Homo sapiens: one gene and its partner. The protein of the gene in region 1 interacts with the protein of each later gene in a biochemical or structural test. Each region holds a gene or a part of one and is shown in the gene's direction. Other genes may lie near its edges.

What was found. Proteins that work in one complex are often made in the same cells at the same time.
Region 2: the proteins of VCAN (region 1) and CD44 form a complex in vitro, tested with the Homo sapiens proteins (one study listed by BioGRID).

What each region holds. Positions count from the first base shown.
Region 1 is NC_000005.10:83,474,744-83,478,243, forward strand, and holds part of VCAN (versican core protein isoform 1 precursor), read left to right. Parts: intron 1-3,500. UniProt on the Homo sapiens protein: May play a role in intercellular signaling and in connecting cells with the extracellular matrix. May take part in the regulation of cell motility, growth and differentiation. Binds hyaluronic acid.
Region 2 is NC_000011.10:35,145,671-35,149,170, forward strand, and holds part of CD44 (CD44 antigen isoform 1 precursor), read left to right. Parts: intron 1-3,500. UniProt on the Homo sapiens protein: Cell-surface receptor that plays a role in cell-cell interactions, cell adhesion and migration, helping them to sense and respond to changes in the tissue microenvironment.

The sequences.
Region 1 (3,500 bases):
GAGAGCCGAGTGGCCTCGCCCCCAGGATTCGGGGCCGGCTGCTTCTGGAGCTGACCCGAGTTCCATCCAGACAGCGCTGAACACTCTTATTAAAAGGCTATTTAAGTTTTATTTTATTTTATTTTATTTTTGCTTGCTTCTTGGGAGTGGTAGGAGGGGCATCGTGCTTTTGTTTTGAGGCAGGGGAGAGGTTAAAATTTACTCCAAGCAAACTTTTTGTCAGAAAAATGAGACTTTATACCGTATTCCATTTGTTGACTTTTTAAATACATTCAGGTCACTCTAAAGCCCATTCTTAGTCAATTAACAGATTAATTTCGTTCCAGACTGTCATAAAGAGTTCGCCTGGAATGGCAAATACTGCCATTCGACAAGACTAATAGAATTTCATGGGGGCAAACATGGAAGGGCTGCGAGTGTAACTGAGGTTCCTGTGCCTCAATGAGGAACCTTAGCGGGGACCTGGCGGGGACTGGAAGCTCAGCACCTATTTAGGGAGTGACTGAGCTGGAAACCTGGAGAAGCTTGGTGCAGACGAGACGGTGCTTCTTAGAGCTGCATTTTAAGTCCTCCCATTTTGCTGCATATTGGAAGAACTGGATTTTAAAGATCTTTTCCATCACCTCAGATTCTGTAGCTAACAGCCACGTCTTTTTCTTTTTGTCTGCTGAAAGCTGTGACCTAATTGTTTTAAGCACTTCTTGACAATTTCGCCAAACCCATCCTGAAAATATTCACATAAAGTCCTAAAATAGGATGTTGTGAGTGTAATATAAAAATAGGAAGGTACCAATGGAAGCAACAATTAGTGTTCTGAGATAGAAGCGGTTCCCAGTTTGTAACTTGGAAATGTTAAGAGCAGTACATCAGGGAGAAGGTCTCCAAGAGTCTGACTTCTTGTTCTGAGCTCTGAGTAAAGAAAGAAATATGTTAGAATTGTATTGTCTGCCCGCAGTAATATTGTAAAGGGTTCCAATGGATTCCAATGTGATTGAGCAATTACTTCCTCCAGCACCAAGTCCACAGTCCTTAATCTTCTTGTGAGAAGATTAGGTAGGAAGCGGGATGAGATTCAAGACAATCATTTAGGATTTATGTCAGAATTCAAAGTTTTGATTCTTTTGGTAGATAAAAACAGAGTTGGTTTTAAATTGTATTTCCTGCTTTCAAAAAAACGAGGTTTGAAAGGAATCCCCCTAGATTTACATAGGTTTACAGATGTAAGTTTCTTCTTTTTCCCTGTGTTTGCAAACTGGAGGGAGATGCCTTTGATATTCCAGAATACCTGTATCTATACACTTGTAAATTCTGCTAGGAAAGGACCTAAACAGCTAAACCAAAGGTGACCATGATTAATGTTAAAGATACTACCCATTGTTCTCTCTTTTGTTGTATTATTAGGCTTAAATACTTTGGAGTTAATGATTGGTCACTTAATTGAGTAACAGAGCCTTTGAGAGCGCAAAGATCAACTAACTCTGTCTCCCAAAGTCTGGCAACTAAGCCCTCCTTTCCTGGTGAGATTTAAACATTTTTGTTGACGTCATTCATGGACAAACATCGGTAAACACTGTATTTAAAATGGGATATTGCCCTGTGATGGAGCAGAACTTCTCAAGACACATGGTTCTTTTGAAAGAAAGAATTAATGACTGTAGTAAGGTATTTTTTCACCACCCACGTAGAGAAACCAGTTAGGACTGACAAACACTCATTGTTGGGAGTTACTTGCTCTGGTCTGAGAAAATATGCTGATTGTTACATAGGTCTGTATTTTACCAGAAAACACAAAGCATGTACTCTCCCTGATTTGGAATCAGAAAAGGGGGATTAGATATGGATGTCTTGGCCAAGCTCCATTTCAATTAGTGAATTTTTGCCAGTTTCCTCTTGTAGCCTAGACTTGGTAAATTACATATATATAAAGTCTGTGTGTGTGTGGGGGGTGCGTGTGTGTGTGTATGTATACAGGGTTTTTAAACACTGCTAAGTTCTTACCATTGAATGTGTTAGAGGTGGTTGTATTTCAGAGGTCAGTACAGAGAATCTTTGTTTAATGTGTCAGTTCTGTTTCCTGAAACACACCTCTGGGTAGATTTACCAACTATAAAAGGATACAAATGTATATACTTTCCACATCTGTATACATCCTACCTCATTCTTCTAAGGATTTTAAGAGGTGTTTATGTCTATAAAATGAGATTACATATTTTACAATAAACATATTTGATAAATTATAATCTTTTTATTATTAAATTATTGATTTGATATTACTTGAGGTATAGTGGAATGAGCACTAGACTTGGAATCAGAAAGTTTGAGTTGGACTCACTAGCTGAGAAAACCAAGCAAAGATATTACTTTTGGACCTTTAGTGTCATAATCTATTAAATGAATATGCAGTTATAAAGATCAAAAGAGTAAGTACTTTGAAAAACTATACAAAAAAGGGATGATAATATATTATGTCTTGGGATTCATATTGATCTAATTCTATAATTTTAATAATAACTGCATTACCCAAGCCATGTAGTTTCTACTGAATCTATAAAATAAATCAGAGAGGGGCATATTGTTTTAAAAATTGTTTAGTTTCATTAATCAGAAGACAGGTTACAGAAATTGACTCCAATGAAGTTGGACATTCAGTGGAAAGGAAGAATTATTCAATAAATGGTTTCAGGACAATTGATGGGTCCATGCAAAATAAGAATCAGTCTCTACCTGATTTCTCATCCTAAAAGAAATATAAGATGAATCAAATATGAAATGTAGGGAATAACTTTTTACAAAATGATAAAAGAAAATCATGGGATTAAAAAAAATAAGTTAGGAATAGAGAAACCTGTTCTAAGCAAAACATAAAACCCAGTGCCATTCTAGGAAATACTGATAGGTCTGACTAAGTAAAAATTACACAAAAGCAAATAATATATTTGGAAAACATCTACGACATTTGAGAGACAAAAAGCTAATAACTCTTGATATTCCATGGACTTTTATGAATAACTTTGAAAAGTCCACATCTATCAAAATATGAGCAAAAATTATGTACAGGTAGTGGCAGAAAGAGACATAGAGTTTTAAAATTATAGAAAAAATCGCTCAGCCTCATCTGTAATTAAATAAATAGTAATTAAAACACCAATGATATGCTACACCATTTTTTCACCAATCAGAGGAGTAACAAAAAAAAATAATTTTTTTCTTTTTTTTTTTTTTTGAGATGGAGTCTGTTACTCAGGTTGGAGTGCAGTGGCACGATCTCAGCTCACTGCAACCTCCGCCTTCCAGGTTCAAGCAATTCTCCTGTGTCAGCCTCCCTAGTAGCTGGGATTATGGGCACCCACCACCATGCTTGGCTAATTTTCGTGTTTTTAGTAGAGTGGGGTTTCACCATGTTGGCCATGGCAGTTGATCTTGAACTCCTGACCTCAAGTGATTCACCCACCTCAGCCTCCCAAAGTGCTGGGATTACAGGCATGAGCCACTGTGCCTGG
Region 2 (3,500 bases), on another chromosome or scaffold:
GAGATACTGATACGAGGTTGAGATCCTTGGGTGAGAGGCCCACACTCCTCCAACCCCCATGTCTGCTTCTGGAAGGTGGTGGCAGAGGAGAGAAGTAGAAGTACTATATGGGAGATGCGGGAGATTCTTGCCTTCTCTGTCGGTCTCTTTGGGCAATTATCAAGCTGTCATCTGACCAGATACTACCATAGCTTCTTCGGGGGCAAATCCGTAGGGAATCCTGACATCCGACGGGGAGCCACTTTGGCAATGGCAAACGGTGTCTCCTCTCCACAGAGCTTGTGATGTCAGAAATTACCCATAACTGGGGCAGGTTTTGTCTTCCCAAAGATTGTCTGCCCAGCTAGACCTGAGAGACAGGGAGACAAACACAGAATGAGGGGGTGGGTCTTGTGGGGGTGGGGAACGATGGAAACTCACAGAGCCAGATCTCCCCGAGTTTGAGTTGCACTGGCTGCCTGGGTGTGTCCTCCTGAGGTAAGTGTCCCTGCGAAGTGCAAGTGTGGGCAGACAGATCTCAGGTGGGTGGGGAGGGACTGAGTCACCAAGGAGGTGATTTGCAAAACTCAGGTCCCAGAAACTTTCAGGTCTTCAGCTTTTAAAAGTAAAGGTTAATTGCAAAACTCCGGGGTTGAGGGAAGAGATTATTCACATAGACCAGTCATTTTGAGCATCTGCTGTTGTGGCATTGCAAGTCTCCTTCGCAGTGCCTGAAAGTTCATTTGTTTTTGAGAGCTCTTACGCTTTTTCTGTTTGCATCTTTGCACAAGTTCTATGTTTCTGAGAACCCTCACCACTATTAGTAATAATAGCAAACACTTACAGAGTGTTGACCATGTACCAGCGCCATTCTAATTGTTTCCTATATACTGCCTTGTTTAATCCAAACACTGACTTCATGAAGGTGGTGCTGTTATTATCTGTCTTTTACATATGAGGAAACTGAGGCACAGAGAATTTAAGTAGCTTGCCCAAGGCCATGCAGCTGATAAGTGATGGCGCTGGGATTCAAACTCACATCTGGCTACAGAGTTCATGCTCTTTGTCACTATGTTAGAGTGCTTCTCTTGGTATATTAAGATATCGAGGCACCCTAGAAATCCAGACGATTGTACCTGGAAGTACTGTAGTTGTTTTCAAAAACTTCATTTGGGAATCTAGTTGTGGGTGAGGTCATAACATCCACTGAGCTTTTAAACATGATGTCAGAGGAAGGGGTTAGAATTGCAAAAATGAAGGAGGAGGAAGTTGTAATGGAAACTTCTGCCAATGCATATTCTGAGTTGACTCATTCATTCTGATCTCTGAATAGAAGCTCTACTCTCTTCCATGTGATGGAAAGTTGAGGATAGGGTAGGGCTGAGAGGGATGTGAATTGAGTTGTTTGTTCATTAGGATAGGATAGGGCTGAAAGGGATGTGAATTGAGTTGTTTGTTCATTATCACTTCATTATTTGTCACCTGGATGAAAGGTAAAGGTGGCTGATTAGTGTTTCTCCATCAGCTAGAACTTTGACTGGGAAATGAGCCAATCAAATAGCAGCAAAATATTTGCCCTCACCTTACAGGCCCTTGGTTCCAGGGTCTTCTCTCCACCGGCTAGAATGGATGAGGGAGGGAGAGAAACTCTGAGAAAAGAGGCTGTCAGGAGTAGGGCTGTACATATCCAGGGCACAAGGAATTTGGCAAAAGCTGGAAGTATACTATAGCCCTTCTCTCCAGCCCTAGCCTAAACCAGATGACCAGGCTTCTATTTGGCCCAGCATGTGACCATCCCATCAGGGAGCAAGAGAGTTTCCTCTGGGTACCCCTCACTGAGAAAAAAGCCACCCAGGAAGGGAGGAGGCAAGGCCCCCTGGGAACATCTGGCTCAGTCCACAGGAAGGGATGCAGGCCTTTTCCTGGGAATGAGGACTCATCCCATATTCCAGCCCCCTTCCCCCAACTTTTTTTTTTTTCAATTTTAGTGCATCTCTTTACACTTAACAGGTCTGCAGTGACTTCTAGGAGGATCCACACACCAATCGTGGAACTAGGCAGCATCTTTTTCCACTTCCTTTCCAAGATAGTAGCACGATAACAGTAAAGCCCCTTTGCAAGTGTTCACTATTATGCACATTAAGATGCCAGGGAGAGGGCTGGGAAAGGTGGCTCACACCTGTAATCCCAGCACTTTGGGAGGCCGAGGCAGGCGGATGACCTGAGGTCGGGAGTTCGAGACCAGCCTGACCAACATGGAGAAACCCCGTCTCTACTAAAAATACAAAAAAATTAGCCGGGCATGGTGGTGCATGCCTGTAATCTCAGCTACTTGGGAGGCTGAGGCAGGAGAATCACTTGAACCCGGGAGGCAGAGGTTGCAGTGAGCCAAGATCACGCCATTGCACTCCAGCCTGGGCAACAAGAGCGAAACTCGGTCTCAAAAAAAAAAAAGGTGCCAGGGAGAAATGAACAATTCCATGCAGCCAACACCTGGTCTCCTGCGTTTGGCTTAGAAGGGCATTTCTGCCCAAGCCCCCAGCTCTAGTCTTTGCACACTTTAAATGAGTAGCTACTACATGCCAATCACAGATGTTGCCTCTGCTGAGTATCCAGTCAAAAAACCAGAATCTAACAGAGCTAACTAAGCACCATCTTGCAGGAAACCAGCTGACGTCAGCTCCGCAGCCACCAGTGAGTTACTGGGCCCACATCTGCCTGCAAGAGGGGGAGGGGAATTCAGGTAACCCACAAGAGGGGATAAAAGTTCGGGGAAGAAATCTCCTGTCAAGGAGTTTGTTTTTGCAGTGGATCCTCTGCAGTGAGACTAGTTGTCTTTACAATATCATTAGAGGTCAGGTACATTCCTGTAGACTCCCTTAAGTGACTTGCTTTCTCCTATTGTTCCCCCTGAAAATTCATAAAAACCTCACAAACACATCTCCATTTAAAAAGAGAAAGTTTAAAGGATGCCATGTAATGGTTATCTCTTTTCTTTTGCCAGTGAGCATAAAAGCTCCTTAGGGAAAAGCCCAAACCCTCTATACATTTTCATATTCATGATAGCCCTGAGCGGTCAGCACAGTTCCCCAATTATAGTGGGTGCTCAATAAACACTTGGATGGCTTACTGAATTAATAATGTTTCTAGACTTGGCTAGCAAAGCCATCTCCGTTACTTATCTTTTGTGATTTTTATAGGTTCTGTCTAATTCTTTTTCTTCATTTTTTTTCTTTCTGGTCTATACAAATCTTCTTTCATTTTTCTCTATTGCTACTTGTAGCGATCCTCAACCCGCCTCCTCCCTTGAAATTTCTGTTCTCTGCACTCTCTTCAGTCTAAAGAGATCTTTCTTGAGGTTTGAAATGTTACACAAGGCAGGGGAAGTTTAGAGCTAATTGTATTTTGTCCAGTAGAACGGGGATCTGGATTTCCTATAGGTCTGGCTGCCTCTTTGTCTACACCTTTACTTCCAAATCTGGCCTCATGTATAAAAAGACCCCAAACCTTAAAATCATGTT